Homo sapiens: one gene and its partner. The protein of the gene in region 1 purifies or fractionates together with the protein of each later gene. This does not show direct contact. Each region holds a gene or a part of one and is shown on either strand. Other genes may lie near its edges.

Evidence for each region.
Region 2: the proteins of KCNMB2 (region 1) and MSRA purify together in Homo sapiens (affinity purification with mass spectrometry; one large-scale study listed by BioGRID and IntAct). This does not show direct contact.

Annotation. Positions count from the first base shown.
Region 1 is NC_000003.12:178,542,758-178,546,610, reverse strand, and holds part of KCNMB2 (calcium-activated potassium channel subunit beta-2), read right to left. Parts: intron 1-3,853. UniProt on the Homo sapiens protein: Regulatory subunit of the calcium activated potassium KCNMA1 (maxiK) channel. Modulates the calcium sensitivity and gating kinetics of KCNMA1, thereby contributing to KCNMA1 channel diversity.
Region 2 is NC_000008.11:10,239,292-10,242,791, reverse strand, and holds part of MSRA (mitochondrial peptide methionine sulfoxide reductase isoform a precursor), read right to left. Parts: intron 1-3,500. UniProt on the Homo sapiens protein: Has an important function as a repair enzyme for proteins that have been inactivated by oxidation. Catalyzes the reversible oxidation-reduction of methionine sulfoxide in proteins to methionine.

The DNA.
Region 1 (3,853 bases):
CACAGTCCCCACTTACTCCCTGTAACAGGCTATAATTTAAAGGGTAGTAGGATGGAGAATGAATTTTTAAAACGTGTAGACACCTTAGGACGTTCATAGGTTGTGGTGAAGTAAGTAGCTTCCTTTTTATCTTGTTTATTAATTTTCTTATTACTTCTCACTAGAATACAAGCTGCAATAAATGTACTTAAACACCATCATGTGCCTGAAATCAAAATTACAACTTTATATGCTTATATGAAAAAAGATAGCTTTCTTCATTTAGGCATGTAAATCAGAGCACATTTGTTTTCTTTATACCAGTTTTTTTCACTTTCAGTTCAGCAAACACTAAATCCACGTGTCAATGGGGAAATAGACCTAGAAGACTGAGAAGCAGATTGTTATAGACATTCTCTAGCCAGTTTTCTTTGTACCAGTTCTATTGTTATATTTTCTATATCTACAAAAATTTTCTCATATTTGGGTATATGTTATCTAAACCTTCCTTCTCCTTTGTACATAAACTTTATTTCTCTGTCAACTTTTCTTTTGATTCATTCCAACAGAGAAATGAGTCCTGTGCTGTTCTATTTTTATGTTTTCAAAGCAAACAGTTACCTTGAGTTATCTACACAGAGAGCCTCACATGGCTGTTCCCAAGCACCACACAGATAAAACCACCATGAAGCAAAGTTAAACCAGTGAATGATCATCTTCACAGAGAGGGAGAAATGGGACCAATCCTGTCAAAATGCGATGAAAATGTGGCCTCTAAAATTAGGTATTATTTTCTTCTGGATGTCAGGTTTCTTTTCCCCCTTCTAATTTCCTCATTTGAAATATAGTAGGAAACAAACAAACAATCCAGAGACAACCAATAGTTCCAGAATTTCTACAGAAATAGAATCCCTCTGTAGGAGTTTTAGTTCAATTTGATGGGACTATACATTCTTCATATAGTCTAAAATTTTCAGATGTTTATGCAAAACCAAACTCAAGACATTCAAGAATTATCTCACGAGCAAGATTTACCAACTGCTTCTCTATCCTTCTCATAAAGTGCCTTATGCAGCATGTCCGGAATGATTCTCTGCATCTGATGCAAAGCAAGAAAGATTCTAGATTTGCATTTGAATTGCTGGCTATTTTTAACTTTCTCAGAGTTTTACTTTGAGAGATATTTTACCTTTGTGGATGAGTTATGGAGTCAGGTGCTTGACCTTTACCAGCTTTCCAGTGAAAAATCCAATGAGGAAAAGACTTCAAACGTCTTACAAAACCAAACTCATTATTTATGAAGTCCTGAACTATGTCAGTGACATTCCCAGACACACATAGTGTAGTAAGGGCTTTATTTCGAGAAATTCCCAAATTGAATCCTCTTTAGTAAGAATCCTATGTGGACTAATTTTGTAAATGATTTCCAATCATAGAAATGCCTGTGAGTGATAGGATTCTACAAACAAACGGGCAGCATCAGAACTCACAAGCTGCTCTTTCCTTCCCCTTCTATAAGAGCCCTCTCTACACCATGGTGTGCAAAGGGGATTCTGTGGAATTAAAACTTGTGTGGTTTCTGGAACCCTAAATCCCCAGTCAAGCAGTCTGGTAAATAAAGATAAGGCATTTACTTGATTTCCCTAATATGGCTTTACCTCAGGGGACAGGGTAAGGAGGAGGGCATATATTAATCAAGAGGTTGTTTTTAAAAAACCTATTGTATATACTTAATATAGTTCTAGTCACCTGAGATTTATAAAAAACATCGTTGCTGCTTTCAATGAGTTTGCAACCTAATTATCTGGCTAAAAATTAGACTTTAAAATTTTAGTTGCATATTTTACTACTTGCCTATTTTTTTTCTCATCAGATAGATTTGTTGAAAACTGAAAATGAGCTCTGATGTCCAGAATCTTTTGGAGTTTTAATTTTACACTCAGGAAAACACCAAGATGACAAGGAATCTACATGTGGGACTCAGCTGACATTTTCCCTATTTAGTATAATGCTGGCAAATGTAAGCCAAAGCCCTCCTGTCCAGTATTATAAGTATCTTCTCTTTCTTTCCTAAGAAGTCAGCAGACTTGACATTTGACTGCTTATTCATTTCCTCCCCTCTCCAGAGCTGAAATTCTCACCCAGGATCATCTGTCACCCGGGCTTTGATGAGGAGGGGGTTTAGGCATTTGCTGTCTGAACTGTCAAACTCAAAGTCAGCTTTGAATGGAAGGTCCCACCATGTGCTTTAGAAAAATAGGGTAGTGGCTGTGGGCAGACAGCAGAGAGGAAGGGAGAGAGAAACATTCTGAAAGAGCATCTGATGTGGGCCTGGGAATATAAAGAGAAGAGGTGAGAGGACAGGTGAATGAGAGTTTAGTGAGCCCATGGCAGATCCAGGGCTTAATTATTATAAAATAATTCCCTGCAGCACTGTATTTCTGAGGTGTATGATTTTTTTGACCATGTGGGCATTTACCCTTTTTAGGTCAAACTGGACACTAAGAAATATACTATAGATATGATTGATTTGTTCTTTCAAGAAACACTTATTGAGCATTAACTACTGCCATGAACTGTGCTAGGCATTGAAAGTACTGTGATGACGATGACCTAGTCCTTAACCTTTCAGAGACTTACAGTTTAAGGAGGGGTGGAAGGAGGCAGATAAGTGAACCAAATATCACAGCATAATGTATTAAGGACCGTGGTAGAATTATGCACAGAGTATTCTTGCAACAAAAAGGAGAAACATATTGTGAAGATTAAGAAAAAAATCCAATCTTAAAAATCTGTGACATTTTTATGACAGTGACACATACACACTTTTGGAGAGATATACTAGTGTCGGGACCAGTTGCACTTACAGAGGAAGATATGAGAAATTACAAAATATTAAAGAACACATCCCCCAAAATTCAACCATTAGTTACCAAGCTTCAGGAATCGGAAATTTGAGAAGTTATTTGGTACAGAATGAAGCTCAGAATTGACCAAAGAAAAGGAAAGTTTAACCTATGTAGTAGATCAGGATTTGAGAGTTTCCCAATAGTTTAATTGGAGGTAGTGACATTTTTATTGAGCAATTAAATGAAACACCCTTTGGATTCAAAAATTAATGCTAAATCTAGAGTAACTGATGAGGTTAATTCCCAATTTCATGCACGTTGTGCACTGAAGTCATTTGTATGATCATGCATTCACCTGGTCAGTTTCTCAGGGTTTCAGTCAGCGCAGCCACAGACAGAGTGAAGACACTGGACATGTTGAAGCTGAAGTCTGACAAGGTACTGGGTTGAAGTTCTGTCCCAGGTATGTGAATTATAAAATTAGGTTTGGTATCTCAGAGAGGCAGACATTTTCTTTGATTTTTCCAGAATTGCTTCTTTCATTTTGGGCCTAATAAGCAGTGAGCAAATGTCATACATTTCAGGAAAATTGGTTTCTGGTTCTGGTCAAATGACTCTTAAATGACATCTATTGAATGAATTTGGAGACATGACATGCCAAGAAGTAAAAACTAAAGGGGACCTTTAAACCAAATCTTGCAGTATTATAATACATGCAATTAAAGTTTATAGTTTCATCTTAGATGATAATAGTTTAATACAAATAGGTCATAGGCAGTATGCACTAATTTGTGCCAAGCATGGTGCTAACACCTGGGCACAGGTTATTTCATTTAATCCTTGTGACCCCATGAATAATATACCATTACTACCTACATTCCTTCTGAGGAAAGGGAGACTCAGGCAAGACGCAGAACTGGGATTCAAACCAAGATATTCAGGGCTGTGAAACTGGTTTTCTAATACTCCATTATACAGCGTGTCTAGAAAGGGCTTTCTTAATTTGTAAATTTGCATTAATTCAG
Region 2 (3,500 bases), on another chromosome or scaffold:
GCTGCAGGTTTAAGCTAAACATTCTATTATGTGGCTTTGAAGGTGTGAGTGTGAAAATGTGTGTGTGTGTGTTTAAACAAAGAAAACAGGCTTATTTATAGCAAAATTACTCATAAATTTCAATAATCTGGTGATCATTATGAATATCAGCAAATAAAATATAGTATGCACTATTTTCTTTAAATACTTATTTTTAGCCTTTTGTTATAAAACAAAACTGATGCAAAAAAACCACACAAAACAAACATATATTTCAATGCACTGTTATTAGGCAAACACCCTTACAACCACCACCTGGGTCAAGAATCAGAAGTTTGCCATCTACCCTAGACATGCCTCCCTGTGTGCTACACTCCAATCCCAACAGAAACCTTATAGCCCAAAAAGCAACCGTTATCTGACTTTCACAGTAATCACTTCCTATGTTTCTTACACTTTATCATCTAAGTGTCCACCCCTGACATTATAGTCTTGCTCATTTTTTTAAATTTGATACGTCTTTAAGTTCTTTTTTTTTTTTTGAGATGGAGTCTCCCTCTGTCACCCAGGCTGGAGTTCAGTGGCGCAATCTCGGCTCACTGCAACCTCCACCTCCCGGGTTCAAGCAATTCTTCTGCCGCACCCTCCCTAGTAGCTGAGATTACAAGCGCGTACTACCATGCCCGGCTAATTCTGTGTTTTTAGTAGAGATGGGGTTTCGCCATGTTGGCCAGGCTGGTCTCGAACTCCTGACCTCAGGTGATCTGCCCCCCTCCGCCTCCCAAAGTGCTGGGATTACAGGCGTGAGCCACCACATCCGGCTGTCTTTAAGTCATTTTAATCAACACATTGTCTCCATTCTTTTCCTTTGACCTTATCCCTTGAAGATCACAGTCTACTTGACCTGTTCAGTTTCTCACACTGTGGATTCTGAGGACTGTGTTCTCATGGTGCAATTCAATTCACACAACCGTCCTCAGAGGACAACTTTCTGCAAGTTGACAATTGGATCCAGAGGCTTCATCAGACTCAGACTTGATCCTCTGGCAAGACTAGAGGTGGGGCTATGGATGGTCTTTGATTAGAAAGCACAAAATGTCTAGTTGTCTCTTTCATGTCTAGTTAGCATTGATGGGTGCTCAATGCCTAGATGTATTAATTCCTGGAGAGTTGCAAAATAGTGATCTTCTAATTCTATCACTTCATTTTCATACCTTATAATGAAAAGCTTCCCCTCAGCTACTACTTTGTTACTCAGTGGTACAATTCACATGGGACAGGGAAGATAAATGCTTGCTTCATCCATTTACATAGTGTCTTCAAGATGACGAACTTGCTATCTCCCAGGCTAATCGAAGAGTTTTTTAAACATCATCACAAACATATTCATTTAAACATATTTGATCGTTTCAATGACTGCTCTCATGTAAGCTTCAGCAGTCATATCTTTGGCCAGTGAGACCCTCTTCAAATTGGCTCCTTCTCCTCAGTTGTCTCATAGCTTCTTTGCTCTCTGGTTTGACAGGATGTCCCAGACTCACCTTGCACATTTCCTACCCCAGTCCCAGAATCGACCATTTCACCAAGAAGCCTAGTTTAATGGGAAAAAGCACTTCAAGATCATGACATGGGTGATAATGAAGCACACTGCACAGTGCACACCATGGCAGCCATGGAGCACTAGGGGATGATGTGGCTGAAATTTCCCATCAAAAGGTAAGTCCCATCAGACCCACCAGATTATAAGGTCAAGGGGCTACAGCCACAGTCTATCATAAAGAGGAAGTTGTACATCGGGAATCATGCACAAGCAGGACCAGAGGGCACGCGTGAGCTGCACGAATAGGAAGCCAGACTCCCCCAGCACCCACCAGGCTGCACCAACTCCCTCCCTCACTTCGCACCTACGGCTGTGTGGCGATCCTGTAAAACCAGCTGGGGGCAGAGAGAAAGGCCGATTTGGGGGATGGGGGTGCGGGGGGTGGGGTGTTGAATGGTTGGTTTGTTATATGGGTGCAGGCTGGAAATGCAGGGCAGCTCCACTGCAGCCTTACTCTAGAGTGGCCAGGAAAGACAGGGGTAAGGGAAAAATCCTCCCAACTGGTTCCTTCAGAGAGGGAAGAATAGCCCAAGTTCAGGACAGCTGTGGACTCAAGGGCAGCAGCAAGTGGCTTGGCTGCCTAGTCAGAGGCCAGAAACACAAAGACTGGAAGAGGAAGAATTAGGAAATCTGGGGTAGAGAGACATAGGTGGACATGTGGGAGTGAGTATGCAGCATGAAGATCTCTTTACCACATGATAATGCCAGCCAGAGGGCATCTACCATGAAAGAGGCACTCATCCACAAAGCATGGAAAGGGGCCCAGCCAGGGGATGCCAGCCAGTGTCTTCACTGGCTACCCTAGTACCTGCGTAATGGATGCAGGAACGAACTGGCCACAATGGCAGAGATAGGTTACACATGGCCCAACAGCATGCACACCCGCTCACCAAGGTCCACCTAGCTACTGCCACCACCAAATGTCCAAATGGCCAGCAACAGAGACTGTCACCAAGTGCCTCACACAGCACCACTCCTTGAGAGGACCAACCCACCATAAGGTGGCAAAGGATTACACCGGGCCCCTTCCATGCTGAAAGGGCCAGTGATGTGTTCTTACACTCACATACATGTATTCTTGGCACGTGTTTGACTTTCCTGCCTTCAGGGTCTTGGCCAACTTCTGTCCCCTAAATAACATCCATCAGACCAAGCAACTCACTTTGCAGCAAGGAAAATGCAGCAGTGAGCCCACAGCTGGTTTCCACCTGTTTTATTTTACTGCACGTCACCAGGAACTGCCGTCCTGAAAAAGCACTGGAATAGCCCCAAGGCACAGCCACAGCACCAGTTCAGTGAACAAACTGTGCAGGTGGGTGCCGGACTCCAGGACACTGAATCAAACACTCCAAAGGTAGGGACACACCATGTTCCCCAAATGAATAATACACGTGTTTGGAAAGCAAAGGAGAGAAACAGGATTGACTTCATTTACTATCTCAGGGACCCATTGGGAGACTTTGTAGCTTTTGTTCCCACACTCTTGGCTCTGTAGAGTTAGAGGTCCTAGTCCCCAAAACAGTACACTTTTATCTGGGAATATAGCAAGACTCCATTGAGTTATAAGATACAGCTATTGCCTGGGCACTCTGGGATCACTGCTACAGGGACAAGTAGGCAAAAGGAGTTTGCCAGGTACAATCGTCCTATAAGCAGTGTAGGAGGATCTCTGTTGTGCCACACCCTTGCAAGCATTTGGTGTTACAAAGTATATAAATATTTGCCAATTGGATGGGCTTAAAATCATATTTCGAGCCAGGGGTGGTGGCTCATGCCTGTAATCCCGGCACTTTGGGAGGCCAAGGCAGGTGGATCACAAGGTCAAGACATCGAGGCCATCCTGGCCAATATGGTGAAACCCCGTCTCTCCTAAAAACACAAAAATTAGCTGGGCATGGTGGTACATGCCTGTAGTCCCAGC